Linked DNA regions of Homo sapiens. The protein of the gene in region 2 interacts with the protein of the main gene of each other region in a pairwise test. Each region holds a gene or a part of one and is shown on either strand. Other genes may lie near its edges.

The links.
Region 1: the proteins of TCF24 (region 2) and MAGEC3 interact in binary tests that used the Homo sapiens proteins (3 or more experiments, as listed by UniProt).

What each region holds. Positions count from the first base shown.
Region 1 is NC_000023.11:141,861,896-141,870,410, reverse strand, and holds part of MAGEC3 (melanoma-associated antigen C3), read right to left. Parts: intron 4,941-8,515; coding exon 4,806-4,940; intron 1-4,805.
Region 2 is NC_000008.11:66,951,787-66,960,301, reverse strand, and holds part of TCF24 (transcription factor 24), read left to right. Parts: intron 1-8,515. UniProt on the Homo sapiens protein: Putative transcription factor.

The DNA.
Region 1 (8,515 bases), on a different chromosome or scaffold from region 2:
CAAAGTTTTCTTAAAATGCTAATCTACTCTTTAGCAAAACTTGTCAAGGGTCTTAACAGGTATATAAAAATCGCACTTCATGGTCAAACTGGTTAAAATTAAACAGGATTGTCTATAAGGTTTCATTAAAATTCAGGTTAACGTTACTAGCAAACTAATGCAAGGGTAAAATTTAACTTTCTCTCTTAAACAGGATTTTCATGTAATAAAAAGGCTAATAAATGGGTTTTGCTTTTCCAAATTTTTAACTCATCATTTTGGCAAAACAAAACAAACTAACAAAAACCAACTTAGGGTGATCTAAAATTCTATTTCATAATGTCAAGTGTTTTAAATTTTAAACATATTTAATACGCTTCCCAAAATCAAACTTTAGTGTCAAGGTTGTCTTTCCTAACCCCTGGCTTTTGGGTACTGCACAGGGCCCCTGAAGCATCTGGAAAAGAGGTAAACAGAATTATTTAACATGCTTAGGTAGATACAATTGCAAAAATGATGTCTAATAGGTTATATTTTAGGGAATAATAATATATGTTCCAAAACTGTATGGTATGTCTAAAGTTCTCGTGTCCAAATATGTGCTATTAATCATAATTAAAGTTGTTATGTTAGGTTATTGTAAACCACAGAAATAACCAAATTTCTTTGTCAGTTGTGTTTCTAATTGTATCCAAACTAGACATTTTGTTATTTACAGACAATCGTTATTTTCTTTTAATTCTCTTCAAAACATGATTTATAATCAAGCTGTGTCGCCTTAGCAAGTGCTCTCAAATGGAGGTTTCTCACAACAACAACAACAAAAAATGTACAGAACTCATGAACAGCTAAAATGTTTATAAATATCAAGCAAAACAAAAGTTAATAAAATGGACTAAACTAATAAAAAACAGAAACAAGTTTTACCTTTTGCTTAAAACACTGCTAATCCTTATTTTACTTTTCAAAGTCAAGAAAACTTGTCTTAAGCTAGCTACAGCCTTTAACAACTAAGCAAAGTATACTCCTGTAAAGTGAATTTAAAGGTTGTTTGTTTCTTTCTGCCTAGTTCCTCTAAAATTTAAAAACTAGTTGTAAGTATTCTTACATTACAACAATATAGTTGTTTGCATAAGCACAATAAGAACCTGTTTTCTTTTGTAACAGAACACAATTAAAAAAAAAACTGGTTATTTTACCAAGGCTTTAACTGGAATGGTATGCTCTCCTTTAAAAAATCAAAGAACTGGCCGGGCGCGGTGGCTCACGCCTGTAATCCCAGCACTTTGGGAGACCGAGGCAGGTGGATTACGAGATCAGGAGATCGAGACCATCCTGGCTAACACGGTGAAACCCGATCTCTACTAAAAATGCAAAAAAAAATTAGCCAGGTGGGGTGGCGGGCACCTGTAGTCGCAGCTACTCGGGAGGCTGAGGCAGGAGAATGGCGTGAACCCGAGAGGCGGAGCTTGCAGTGAGCCGAGATAGCACCACTGCACTCCCGCCTGGGTGAAAGAGCGAGACTCCATGTCAAAAATAAAAATAAAAATAAATAAATAAATAAATAAATAAATAAAATAAAAATTTTAAAAAAAATCAAAGAACTTATATAGCCAATAAAACCCTTGAAAAATCGACCTCGTATTTTGTGTACACAGTCCCTGTACAGAGTTTCTAATCTATGGTAAGTAAAGAATGTCACTTTCTAACAGGCCAGGAATCCCAAGTGATCTTAGAACCTCAAGAAAAAAAATTTGCCCAACTCATAGGTATTTAATGGTACAAATCCATGGCTAGGCTTGGCTTTTAAAAGTCTTATCTCAAATTCCTTCCATGAAACAAAGTTCCATCAAAGCCAATTTAAAAGGTCTAGTAGCAAATTCTTGCTGCACTGTATATAAATAATTAAGCCAAGTATAATAAAGCAAATCAATCCTACCATAATTTGTCTTTTAATAAAAATGGGAAACTGAAAAAGGAAAATTATGTTTCAAAAACTGTAGCTCACCTGTTGTTAAATTCTAGTCTGGCCTAATGTTTTTCAATTTTTATTATTTGCTACAGTTTAAACTATATCTGTTACAGAAATTAACTCCTGGATACATCACACTCAAATCAAAGCCTAAAAAGCTAAGAAAGCAACCCCTAACAGCCCAGAAAAAGTCCTAAATATTAATGTAAATAAATAAAAAATCTTAAGCTGAAAATCATAAAAAATAAGTAATGGAGTAAAAATTACCCATTTTACTCAATCTCACCCCTACCTCACCAAATACTTTTTTTCATTTCTACCTCTCCTTTTTTTTTTGAAGGCGGAGTCTCGCTCTGTCGCCCAGGCTGGAGTGCACTGGCGCCATCTCGGCTCACTGCAAGCTCCGCCTCCCGGGTTCACACCATTCTGCTGCCTCAGCCTCCCAAGTAGCTGGGACTACAGGCGCCCACCACCACTCCTGGCTAATTTTTTTGTATTTTTAGTAGAGATTTGGTTTCACCGTGTTAGCCAGGATGGTCTGGATCTCCTGACCTCATGATCCGCCCGCCTTGGCCTCCCAAAGTGCTGGAATTACAGGCGTGAGCCACCATGCCCAGCCTCTACCTCTCCTTTTAAGCCAAATATTAAAACATTTTTAATAAAAATTATTTACTATGCAACCCTTGCAGGAATTGCTTTACTCACTCTACTATTTGCAGGAGGACTATATACTGTAACACCCTCAAGGTAAAATATCAGACAGAAAATCTCAGTTACTATAACATTTTGCTCAATTATTATCCTCATAGCAGCAGTAACAGTTACTAACAAAAAATAATGCATAGGCCTTTCCAGTTTTATTTTAGAAAAATACACCCGAGAGGGGTTTTTGGGCAAGTTAGGTTAGAGGCACTCTTTTCGTTTGTTTGTTTTGTTTTGTTTTTACAGACTAAGAGTTTTTAAGGATTTAGGGCGGGAGAGTTTATCAGAGACTTGGACTGCCTCTGTGTTTCTTTGTTGTGCTTATCTGGGAGGGAGAATTTTGGGTCTGTTCCCATACATCTTCCTGCAGCTGCAGGCATACTCCCTGAGTCTGCTTTTAACTTCTCTTAGTGCACCTGAAGGGAAAGGAATGTGCTTATTAAGGCCCATTGTTTTACTGGGGCCCACTGTATGAAGGTGAAGTTAATAAATCTGTCTTTAGCTGTCAAGCCACCTTTCCTGTTTCTTTCTTCTTTCTTTGATTCTTACAACTGTAAGGCTACAGTAATAACAAAGAAAGTATGGCATTGGTTAAAGGATAGATTTTTTTTTAATGGAACAGAAGAGATAATCCAAAGGAAGGCCCCAGTGAGGTCCATTCAGTGTTTACAAATGTCTCAAGACAACTGAATTGAGAAAATTAGTGGTGGTTTTTTTTTTTCTGAAAACCTTTCTTTTGTTTATATTTTATTTCATCACTTTCTCTCTTCTTCATCTAACCTCCCTTGGCTATTGTCCTTCACTCAAAGGCACCCATTCTTGCTTGTTTTGTGAATGTCTATTTCACTATTCATATATTAATTTACGCATACGTGAAAGTATGTAATATTATTGTGTGTGTGTGTTAAATGTACAGAAGTAGTATTTGGTCAGAAATCTTGCTTCATTTCTTATTTTGAAGGTAAGCCTTATTTGAGCTTCATTTTCATTGCAGCATATAGATTTGGTTTATTTATCAGATACCTGGATAAATTCCTTTTTTATGTGTTACTTCATTTTACTTATGAAATCCCCTAGTGGTTACTTTTTACTCTTTGAAATTATGCTCAATTAATATTCATTTACATGTTTCGTTGTGCATTTATATGAGTTTCTGTGGGCCTATATCCAGGAAGGAAATTACAAAGTTGTAGAGTACAAGCGCTGTAGGCTTGATTGCTTTCCAAAAAGGTTGCACTAGCTTGCATTTCTATTAGCACTACAAGAGTGTTTTTGTTTTTTCACATTGTCATCAGCACTTGATATTGTTTGTTTTTCTACTTTTTGACAATTAAATGTGTGTAAAGTGGTATTTTAATCAGTGCTATGAGTTCAACTGGACATCCACATGCAAAAATATAAAATAAAATTTACCTGAATTGCATACTTAATATAAAAATTTTTTTAACATGGATTACAGCTCCATGGATTATAATTAAATTAGAAGCTATAAAACTTATGAGAAAACATAGGAGGAAATCTTTTGAACTGGACTTAGGCGAAGAGATGTAATACCTGAAACTAAATCATGATTCATTTAAGAAAATGATATATTAGACTTCCTCAATTTTAAAAATCTTTTCTTCCCAGGGCTAAGAGTGGAAACGGACTGGATTCTGTGAGGTCCCTGTGTACTTCTCAATTTCTCAAGGTAATCATATTTACTCTTGATCAGGGTCTTCACCCCGGCCCTTCTGCTGACTTGAGGCTGGCTTCCTCACACCAAGGATATCACCTCCATGAAATCCTCTAAAAGGATGTCAGGGGATAGGGAGAGTTGTTGCTACCTGATACCCATGCATGGGACCTCTCAGGATTCACACGAAGAGGAAGGTTCTTTGAAGCTCAGTCCATCTATAGAGGAAGGCTATCTTTGTCCTTTCTCTGCATTCTCACCTTAATGCATGCTGGAGCTGGAACTTCTCTCTCTGCTGACTTGAGTCTAAGGTGAGGAAGCCTCACCTCCCTCAGGCCCCAAAAATGAAGTCTACGGACATCAAAACTGGGGAAACCTGCCTTGGGCCACCCAGGGCTAACAGCACAGGGAGGGCAGGGCTAAAACTCCCTATATCTGTGGCAGGAGGTCCCCTCAGTCTTTCCTTAGAGTCCTTACCTTGAAGTATGTGGGGCAGAGGACAAGACTATCCATTCGCTGATCTGAAGTTCCACCCCTCAGAAAAAGCCTCACCTCCCTCAGATGCCCAAGATGAAAGGCAGAATAGTCCTTATCTGTGGCCTTTTTCCGGGGCTACTCAGGTCAAATATCAGGGGCAGGACTAGGCTGGGGCAACCTCTACCTGTGATGGAAGATCTACTCTATTCTTCTTTAGTGTCTTTCCCTTGATGAGTGAAAGCAATTAGAGAAAAAAAATGTCAAATTAAAAAGTATAAAATTTTATAAGAAAATATAAGGTAAATCTTATGACTTGGAATTAGGAAAAGATGCCTCAAAAATAAAACCAAAATTCAAAAAGAAACAATATATCAGACATCCTCAATAATTTTAAAAATTAGTTTTGAGAAAGACACTGTTGAGAGCAGAAAAAGTCAAACAACAGGTTGAAAAAAAATTTATAAATTACATATCCAAAAAGCACCTGTATCCAGAATACAGAAAGGGCTTTCAAAATCCAAAAATTAGAAAACATTTTCAAAATGGGCAAAATACACCAATAGACACTTTTCTAAAATTGACATACAAATGTTAAATAAGCACCTGAAAAATTATCCTACATCATTAGATTTTACAGAAAAACAAATTAAAATCAAGGTAGATGCATCATATTTTTGAGGACTGCTGAAAAATCCACTGACATTACTAACTGCTAGCAAGGATGAAGAGCATCTTGAACACTATTGTGTTTCCTGTGTGAATGTAAAATTGTGCAGTCACTATCTGGAAATTTCTTTTATTTCCCCCAGACTTCTTTTTTTTAAATTTATTTTAAGTTCAGGAGCACATGTGCAGGTTTGTTACATGGGTAAACTTGTGTTGTGGGGGTTTGTTGTACAGATTATTTCATCATCCAGGTATTAAACCTAGTACCCATTAGTTATTTTTCCTGATCCTCTCCCTCCTGCCATCCTCCAACCTCCAACAGGCTTCTCTGTGTGTTGTTCTTCTCTGTGCATCTATGTGTTCTCATAATTTAGCTCCTACTTATAAGTGAGAACATGCAGTATTTTGTTTTCTGTTCCTGCGTTAGTTTCCTAAGGATAATCGCCTACAGCCCCATCGATGTTCCTGCAAAGAACATGATCTCATTATAAACATACACTTACCATATGACTCAGAAATACCATTACTGTGTGAAATAAATTTGCAAACCTTATGTTCTCACAAAAACCTGTACATTCATTTTTATTATCTTTTTTCATTTTAATTTTTTTTTTTTTTTTTTTGTAGAGATGAGGTCTCACTATGTTGCCTAGGCTGGTCTTGAACTCCTGGGCTCAAGAGATCCTCCTGCTTCAGCTACCCAGAGCACTGGGATTATAAGCGTGAGCCACCATGCCCAGGCCAGAAACCTATACATGAATGTTTATAGTAGCTCTATTCATACTTCCAAAAGCTGAAAAATATGAAATGTCTTTCTGTAAGTGAATGGATTAACAAATTGAGGTGCATCCACACAATGGAATTCTATAGACCAACAAGGAGGAATCAACTATTGACATGCACAGCAATTTGGGTTGAATCCCCTATGCCTCACCTTTGTAGTCAACTAACAGCCTCCTCCAAGTCCCTAGTAATGGTGATCTGTTTTTCGTATCTTTTTACCTTTTTTGGAATGTCTATAAATCAGATAATACAATGCTTTCATCGAACGAGTGCTATATATTTTTTCCAACCAGCAATAAATGAGAGTAGTTCCTTTTGTTTCACATTATCTCTTATATCTGATATTTTAGGATTTTTAGCCACTCTAATTAGTATGTAGTAGAATCTTATTGTGGTTTAATTTGCACTTCCCCAAGGATAAATTATGCTGAGCATCTTTTCATATAATTTTGTGATCTGTATATCTTTTTTATTGAAGTGTATTTTCAAATACCTTGCATATTTTAAAATGAATAGGCTTTATGTTCTAGAATATTATTATGTTTTACCAAAACAAATTGATAAGAAAATACAGAGTTCTCACATATCCACTAACCTCCCCACAGTTTTCCATATTGTTTACATCTTGTAATGTGGTACACGTACTGCAATTGATGAATGTATGTTAATATATTATTATTAACTAAAATTTACAATTTAGCTAGGGTTCATTCTTTGTTTTACATTCTGTAGATATTGACAAATATATAATGTCATGTATCCACTCTTACAGTATCACATAGAATCGTTTCACCGTCCTAAAATGCCCCTGTGTCCCATCTAGTCATCCCTCTTCCTCCTTCCAACGAACCTCCAACAACAACTTATCCTTGCATTGTCTCTATAGTTTTGCTTGTTCTAGAATATCATAGATTTGGTATGATATACTCTGTAGGATTTTTTCACACTTTAAAAACCTTTATAAATAATTTTTTAAAATAAACAAAATAGATAAGGTAGTAGTGAAACTCCGTATATCCATTTCTCAGATTCTGCAATTTCAAGATTTTTAAGAATCATTTTTAAGTTTTTTTGCTATAAAAATATATGTACTTATTTATGGGGTACATGTGAAATCTGGTTACATGTATAGAATGTGTAATAAACAAGTCTGGGTATTTGGGATATCTGTGACCCAAGTTTTTATCATTTCTATGTGCTGGTGCATTTCATGCTCTCTCTTCTAGCTATTTTGAAAATTACAATACATTGCTGTTACTACAATCACCCTGCTCTGCAGTCAACATTAGAAACTATTAATTCTACCTAACTGTATGTTTGTACCCACTAACCAACCTCTCTTCACCACCCCAACCCCTGCTGAAACCATTCACTCACACTCCCCAGTCTCTGGTGTCCGTCATTCCACTTTTTATCTCCATGTGATCAACACTTTATCTCACACATATGAGTAAGAACATGTGATATTTGTCTTTCTGTGCCTGGTTTACATCATTTAACATAAAGACCTGGAGTTCCATCCATGTTGCTGCAAATAAAACTTCTTTCTTTTCATGGCAGAATAATATTCCATTGTGGATATATACCACATTTTCCTTATCCATTCTCCCTTGGTGGACATCTGGGTAGAATCTGTATCTTTGCTGTTGTGAATGGTGCTTCAGTAAACATGAATATGCAGGTATTCCTTTGATATATTGATTCCTTTCCCTTTGGATAAATAGCCAGTAGTGGATTTGCTGGATCATATGATAGTTCTTTTTTTCAGTTTTCTGAGAAATAGCAATACTGTTTTCCATTGCATTTGTACTGATTTACATTCTCACAACAGTGTATAAGAGTTTCCTTTTTCCCACATCCTCACCAGCATCTGATTTTTTTTTGTCTTTTCATAATAGGCATTCTACCTATGGTAAGATAATATCTCATTGGGGTTTTGATCTGTATTTACCTGATGCTTAGAGATATTAAGCATTTTTCCCATACTTGTTGGCCATTAGTATGTCTTTTTTGGATAAATGTGTATTCGTGTCATTTGTCTACTTTTTAATGGGATTTTAAAAAATTGTTGAGTTGTCTGACTTCCTGATATATGCTCAGTAGTAGTCCCTGGTTGGATAAATCATTTGCAAATATTTTCTTCCTTTCAAGGAAGGGAATTGTCTCTTCACTTTGTTTATTGGTTCCTTTGCTGAGCAGAAACTTTTTAGTGTAATATAGTCCCATTTGCCTATTTTTGTGTTTGTTGCATTTGCTTTTGA
Region 2 (8,515 bases):
AACAAAATTTACTTTGCAAATATAATCATAATGATAGACTTAAATGATTTCAATATTAAATATGAAGACATGAAATATCATTATAATTACGATAGACTTTATTTCATTTGTAAGTTTTATAATCTCAGCAGAAAAGTCATTATTAAGGGGTTTTGTATTACCGTGTTCATTAGATTGCTATTCGAATATACCATTAATATTAAATTTCTTTTGACTTGACATTTGCCATATACTCTAAGGAAGTTTATTTTAATGTGAAGTAGATTGTAATACAAAGAGCATCTGTTAAATACTTTATGGGAGATATAATTCAGAATGAGAAGTCAGGATGCTTTTCAACTTATTTTCTTGGAATGCTTTTTTTGAATGAATAATGTTGGAAGCATCATTTCCATGTAATAATAAGCATAGCAAGCGTCTTTTTGCACTTGATTCATGTACCAAATGTTTTTGTAATCATAACTGTTTTTATTTGTAAATATTGATTGTTTTTATTTTAAAAGACAACTCTAGAGATAATGATCCAAAGCCAAGGATTATTTTTTTAAATGAAATTAATGTTGCTTGAACAAGTGACTAAAATCAAGCATGTTTTAAAATCAAACATTTATTGAATTCCTACTATGTGCAAAGCACTATTTTAGGGGAGTGAACACAATTAATAAGACTCAGTCCCTTTCCTATATGAACATATTATTGAGACAAAGACAAAGAAACAAATAACAGTGTTGGAAGTGAGAATGTTATATTTTCCATAAAAGAACTATAATTATGTGCTACGGAAGTTCAGAGGAAAGAGATGTTATGTACATAATTGAAACCGCCTGTTAACTGTTAACACATTATTTTACAGACACTACCAAAATGTTTAAACATTGTCTACCTTTGATTAATGCGAAAGAAATTAAAATATCCTAACTATTTATACTTTTATGGTCAACTAAAGGCTCATTATAAACTATTGTTTGTAAAAAGTGTTCTAAAATGACTTCATTTTTCTGCCTTACAACATAGTGTTAGGTCTTACCCTGATGATCAAAGCTTTTTAACAAATATTTCAAGGCCATTATTTTGAATCATCAGTCCTTATTATCAGTATTGTTAGCACATTACCACTGTTGGGGATTTACTTTAAGAGCATTTCATAGCAAGACTTCCTCTCTACTAAGAATTTTAAAAATTAGGTGGCTGTGGTGTGTGCACCTGTAGTCCCAGCTACTGGGGAGGCTTATGCGAGAGGACTGCTTGAGCCCAAGAGATTGTGGCTACATTGCACCACTGCATGCCTGGGCAACTGAGCAAGACCCTGTCTCAAAAAAGAAAACAAACATCTCAAATGAAACTGGAAGTTTAAGAGACTGGGAACCTGGTGCATAGCCTGAAATGGCAGTTTTTAATCCCTGTGGGGTATGAGCAATTTATTTCCATCAGCATCAGCTGCCCAAAAGGCAGTGATTCGCTAAGAAACAGGAGTGTATTTCAGATCTCTACATTGGCAGAAAAACACAGATGACTTTATTATTGTGCCCCTTATTTAATAATCATTGTCTATGATAGGTAAACAATAATTGAAAAAAATAGATAACAGGGTTTTGTTACTTTTGAGTCACTTAATTAAGTGCTTTTTTGTTGTTGTTGTTTGAGATGGAGTCTCTCTCTGTCACCCAAGCTAGAGTGCAGTGGTGCGATCTCAGCTCACTGCAACCTCCGTCTCCCATGTTCAAGTGATTCCCCTGCCTCAGCTTCCCGAGTAGCTGGGACTATAGGCGTGCAATACCACACCTGGCTAATTTTTGTATTTAGTAGACATGGAGTTTCACCATGTTGGCCAGGATGGTCTTGATCTCCTGACCTCATGATCCACCCACCTCAGCCTCCCAAGAGCTGGGATTTTTAAGGTCTTCAGTTTCAGGTTCAGTTCTAGTTAATTATGAGTTTGCTAAATTTTCTAAGCTTAATGAAACTACAGTAAATGGTTTTAAAGATACCCTATGAGGGAAAGTAGAGCTAAGTAAGGATTGTGTTAATCTGCACAATCCTGAAACAAACTGTTGAAAAGAAAATGTAAATCAGTCAACTGGCTTTTTTGGCATCCTGATGACATGCAACCTAACCAATATTCTATGTACATTTTAATTTCAGACTCTTAAAACTGTGTGTCTACATTAAATTAAGTTCAATAAAATCATTACAAGCCTTTTTGAAAATCAAGGACACAATATTCTTAAAAAAGAATATTTATTTTATTAATCCATGAAAAAGGAGGCACAATTTCACATATACAATTTTAGGTTTGCTTCGTTAATTTTATCCTAGCAAGGATGAAATAGACGCCTTCATTTGTCTCCACACTTGGCTGAATGATTTAGAGCAATTCTTTTTTTTTTTTTTTTTTTTTTTTTTTTTAGCAATTCTTAACACAGTGGGACCTGGATAGCATGTAAGAGGACCACCAGTAGAGCATTCAGTAGTATTTTAATTTTATTTGCTTTCAAGTGTATTTAGTTCATATAATTCTCAATTTACATTTGACATTTGAGCATGAGATTTTTATGCTTATGAAAATGGGGCAGGTAAAAGGTTTCAAAGCACTGGTATATAATGTAGCCACAAATTATGCACTTAAAGTTGATATCTGTGCTACACTATTCACTATATGTATTAGTCTGCCATAACAAAATACCACAGACTGGCTCTTTTAAACAACAGAAATTTATTTTCCCACAGTCTGGAGACTGGAAAATCCAAAATCAAGATGCAGGGTTTAGTTCCTCGGAAGGGCTATCTTGCTAGCTTGTAGATGGCCCACTTCTCTCTGTGTTCTCACTTGGCCTCTACATGTACACAGAGAGAGAGAGATTCCTCTTTTTTTTTTTTTTTTTTTGATATGGAGTTTCACTCTTATTGCCTAAGCTGGAGTGCAGTGGTGTGATCTCGGCTCACTGCAACCTCCGCCTCCTGGGTTCAAGCAATTCTTCTGCCTCAGCCTCCCAAGTAGCTGGGATTATGGATGCCCACCACCACGCCCAGCTAATATTTGTATTTTTGGTAGAGACAGGGTTTCACCGTGCTGGCCAGGCTGGTCTTAAATTCCTGACCTCAGGTGATCCACCCACCTCGGCCTCCCAAAGTACTGGGATTACATGAGCCACTGCATCCAGCCTTTTTTTTTTTTTTTTTTTTTTTTTTTGAGACGGAGTCTTGCTCTGTCGTCAGGCTAGAGTGTAGTGGTGCGATCTGGACTTACTGCAACCTCCGCCTCCTGGGTTGAAGCGATTCCCATGTTGCCCAGGATGGTTTTGATCTCTTGACCTTGTAATCTGCCCGCCTCAGTCTCCTAAAGTGCTGGGCTTACAGGCATGAGCCACTGCCCCCGGCCCGATTCTCCTCTTCTTAAATGGGTATTAGTCCCTCATGAGCTAATCTAACTCTTTTTACCTCCCAAAGGCCTGGTCTTTAAATCCCATCACCTTAGAGGTAAGAGCTTCAACATGTACATTTTGGAAGGACACAAACATTCAGTCTGTAACACTACAGCACTGGGGTCTTCAGCATAATGAAGGACTTTAATCTGATATAACAATGCCAGATCTTGATATATCAGATAAACCTCACTCCAGTTTCTAAAACATATTAGTTTGGCTGGGCGTGGTGGCTTACACTGTAATCCCAGCACTTTGGAAGGCTGAGGCGGGCGGGTCACTTGCGGTCAGGAGTTCGGGACCAGCCTGGCCAACATGGCAAAACCCCATCTCTACTAAAAATACAAAAATTAGCCGGGCATGGTGGCACATGCCTGTAATCCCAGCTACTTGGGAGGCTCAGGCAGGAGAATCACTTGAACCCAGGAGGTGGAGGTTGCAGTGAGCCAAGATCTGCCACTGCACTCCAGCCTGGGTGACAGAGCAAGACTCTGTCTCAAAAAAAATAAAAATAAAAAACACATTAGTTTATCTTTGGCAAAGATCCCAGGAACAGGACCACTGACAATGATACACCTAGAATGTATAGGAATGCATATGTATTATTTTTAAAAATTGAGTCCAGGCATGGTGGCTCACCACCTGTAATCCCAGCACTTTGGGAGGCTGAGGCAGGAGGCTCACTTGAGCCCAGGAGTTCAAGACCACCCTTGAACTCAAAGCAACATAGTGAGACTCTGCCTCTGTAAAAACAAACAAACAAACAAACAAACAAGTTTTTAATTAGCCCAGCGTGGTAGCACGCACCTGTAGTCCTAACTCAGGAAGCTGAGGCAGGAAGATTGCATGAACCCAGCAGGTTTAAGCTGCAGTGAGCCATGATCACACCACTACCACTCCAGCCTGTGCAGCAGAATGAGACCCTGTCTCATAAAAAAAAATAATAATAAAATAAATTTAAAAAAATAAAAATTAGGACTTTGGTTGGTTGCCACAGAACAAAACTTTCCAGATAGTATCACATGCCCACTTATTCTTTATGGCTATGTTTTACATTTGGAGTCCCAGTTTAGGTGAAAATAACTGTGCTCACAAGTGCAATGAGAGTTTATATTATTCCATCTAAGATCTAACTCTGCTTACATTCTATTAACTCTGTAACAGAAGTAATAGTCCATTCTGACTTAATTGGTCTGGGGTGTGACTTTGCCATCAGTATTTATTTAAAGCTCTCTGGGTGAGTCTAATATTAGCAACTTGGGTTGTGAACCCAGAGCTCTTAATGTTCTTTGGCATGTTAATAATTGTACCTCTATTTGAGCACTGTGGATTATCTACCAGGCATTTAAAAACATTTTATGGTGCTATGTAACTAGCAGTTGGCCTGTGTGTGTTCCGTGATGAAGATAAGTAGCCTGCTTACATAAGGCAGCACTTGCTCCCTGGAGAGTGTGGGACCAGATTGCTGACCTTTAGGAGTTGTATTTTTTTTTTTTTTAGTCCCTCTCTGTAGTAAAAAAAAACAAAAGTAGTATTCCAAGGATCTTAGAACTTAACTGATTATATGACACCTGCCTCCCTCCCAAAAGAGTTTTATTCTGAAAGAACTACTCATGTAATATGTTTTTTCATCATTATGTCTGTCTGGCAATAAATTATATTGTTTGAGAGATTGCCCACCATAAAGATGAATTTAGAAAAATCACCATCAGTAATTCAAATGTGATGATTACCAAAAGGTTAGAGCTAGATGATGTCGAGGGGAGGAGCCAAGATGGCCGAATAGGAACAGCTCCGGTATACAGCTCCCAGCGTGAGCGACGCAGAAGACGGGTGATTTCTGCATTCCCATCTGAGGTACCGGGTTCATCTCACTAGGCAGTGCCAGACAGTGGGCGCAGGTCAGTGGGTGCGCGCACCGTGTGCGAGCCAAGGCAGGGCGAGGCATTGCCTCACTTGGGAAGCGCAAGGGGTCAGGGAGTTCCCTTTCCGAGTCAAAGAAAGGGATGACGGACGCACCTGGAAAATTGGGTCACTCCCACCCGAATATTGCGCTTTTCGGACCGGCTTAAAAAACGGCACACCACGAGATTATATCCCGCACCTGGCTCGGAGGGTCCTACGCCCACGGAGTCTCACTGATTGCTAGCACAGCAGTCTGAGATCAAACTGCAAGGCGGCAGCGAGGCTGGGGGAGGGGCGCCCGCCATTGCCCAGGCTTGCTTAGGTAAACAAAGCAGCCTGGAAGCTCGAACTGGGTGGAGCCCACCACAGCTCAAGGAGGCCTGCCTGCCTCTGTAGGCTCCACCTCTGGGGGCAGGGCACAGACAAACAAAAAGACAGCAGTAACCTCTGCAGACTCAAATGTCCCTGTCTGACAGCTTTGAAGAGAGCAGTGGTTCTCCCAGCACGCAGCTGGAGATCTGAGAACGGGCAGACTGCCTCCTCAAGTGGGTCCCTGACCCCTGACCCCCGAGCAGCCTAACTGGGAGGCACCCCCGAGCAGGGGCACACTGACACCTCACACGGCAGGGTATTCCAACAGACCTGCAGCTGAGGGTCCTGTCTGTTAGAAGGAAAACTAACAAACAGAAAGGACATCCACACCAAAAACCCATCTGTACATCACATCATCAAAGACCAAAAGTAGATAAAACCACAAAGATGGGGAAAAACAGAACAGAAATACTGGAAACTCTAAAATGCAGAGCACCTCTCCTCCTCCAAAGGAACGCAGTTCCTCACCAGCAACGGAACAAAGCTGGATGGAGAATGACTTTGACGAGCTGAGAGAAGAAGGCTTCAGACGATCAAATTATTCCGAGCTATGGGAGGACATTCAAACCAAAGGCAAAGAAGTTGAAAACTTTGAAAAAAATTTAGAAGAATGTATAACTAGAATAACCAATACAGAGAAGTGCTTAAAGGAGCTGATGGAGCTGAAAACCAAGGCTCGAGAACTACGTGAAGAATGCAGAAGCCTCAGGAGCCAATGCGATCAACTGGAAGAAAGGGTATCAGCAATGGAAGATGAAATGAATGAAATGAAGCGAGAAGGGAAGTTTAGAGAAAAAAGAATAAAAAGAACTGAGCAAAGCCTCCAAGAAATATGGGACTATGTGAAAAGACCAAATCTATGTCTGATTGGTGTACCTGAAAGTGACGGGGAGAATGGAACCAAGTTGGAAAACACTCTGCAGGATATTATCCAGGAGAACTTCCCCAATCTAGCAAGACAGGCCAACATTCAGATTCAGGAAATACAGAGAACGCCACAAAGATACTCCTCGAGAAGAGCAACTCCAAGACACATAATTGTCAGATTCACCAAAGTTGAAATGAAGGAAAAAATGTTAAGGGCAGCCAGAGAGAAAGGTCGGGTTACCCTCAAAGGGAAGCCCATCAGACTAACAGCGGATCTCTCGGCAGAAACCTTACAAGCCAGAAGAGAGTGGGGGCCAATATTCAACATTCTTAAAGAAAAGAATTTTCAACCCAGAATTTCATATCCAGCCAAACTAAGCTTCATAAGTGAAGGAGAAATAAAATACTTTACAGACAAGCAAATGCTGAGAGATTTTGTCACCACCAGGCCCGCCCTAAAAGAGCTCCTGAAGGAAGCGCTAAACATGGAAAGGAACAACCGGTACCAGCCGCTGCAAAATCATGTCAAAATGTAAAGATCATCGAGACTAGGAAGAAACTGCATCAACTAACGAGCAAAATCACCAGCTAACATCATAATGACAGGATCAAATTCACACATAACAATATTAACTTTAAATGTAAATGGACTAAATGCTCCAATTAAAAGACACAGACTGGCAAATTGGATAAAGAGTCAAGACCCATCAGTGTGCTGTATTCAGGAAACCCATCTCACGTGCAGAGACACACATAGGCTCAAAATAAAAGGATGGAGGAAGATCTACCAAGCAAATGGAAAACAAAAAAAGGCAGGGGTTGCAATCCTAGTCTCTGATAAAACAGACTTTAAACCAACAAAGATCAAAAGAGACAAAGAAGGCCATTACATAATGGTAAAGGGATCAATTCAACAAGAAGAGCTAACTATCCTAAATATATATGCGCCCAATACAGGAGCACCTAGATTCATAAAGCAAGTCCTGAGTGACCTACAAAGAGACTTAGACTCCCACACATTAATAATGGGAGACTTTAACACCCCACTGTCAACATTAGACAGATCAACGAGACAGAAAGTCAACAAGGATACCCAGGAATTGAACTCAGCTCTGCTCCAAGCGGACCTAATAGACATCTACAGAACTCTCCACCCCAAATCAACAGAATATGCATTTTTTTCAGCACCACACCACACCTATTCCAAAATTGACCACATACTTGGAAGTAAAGCTCTCCTCAGCAAATGTAAAAGAACAGAGATTATAACAAACTATCTCTCAGACCACAGTGCAATCAAACTAGAACTCAGGATTAAGAATCTCACTCAAAACCGCTCAACTACATGGAAACTGAACAACCTGCTCCTGAATGACTACTGGATACATAACGAAATGAAGGCAGAAATAAAGATGTTCTTTGAAACCAACGAGAACAAAGACACAACATACCAGAATCTCTGGGACGCATTCAAAGCAGTGTGTAGAGGGAAATTTATAGCACTAAATGCCCACAAGAGAAAGCAGGAAAGATCCAAAATTGACATCCTAACATCACAATTAAAAGAACTAGAAAAGCAAGAGCAAACACATTCAAAAGCTAGCAGAAGGCAAGAAATAACTAAAATCAGAGCAGAAATGAAGGAAATAGAGACACAAAAAACCCTTCAAAAAATTAATGAATCCAGGAGCTGGTTTTTTGAAAGGATCAACAAAATTGATAGACTGCTAGCAAGACTAATAAAGAAAAAAAGAGAGAAGAATCAAATAGACACAATAAAAAATGATAAAGGGGATATCACCACCGATCCCACAGAAATACAAACTACCATCAGAGAATACTACAAACACCTCTACGCAAATAAACTAGAAAATCTAGAAGAAATGGATAAATTCCTTGACACATACACTCTCCCAAGACTAAACCAGGAAGAAGTTGAATCTCTGAAT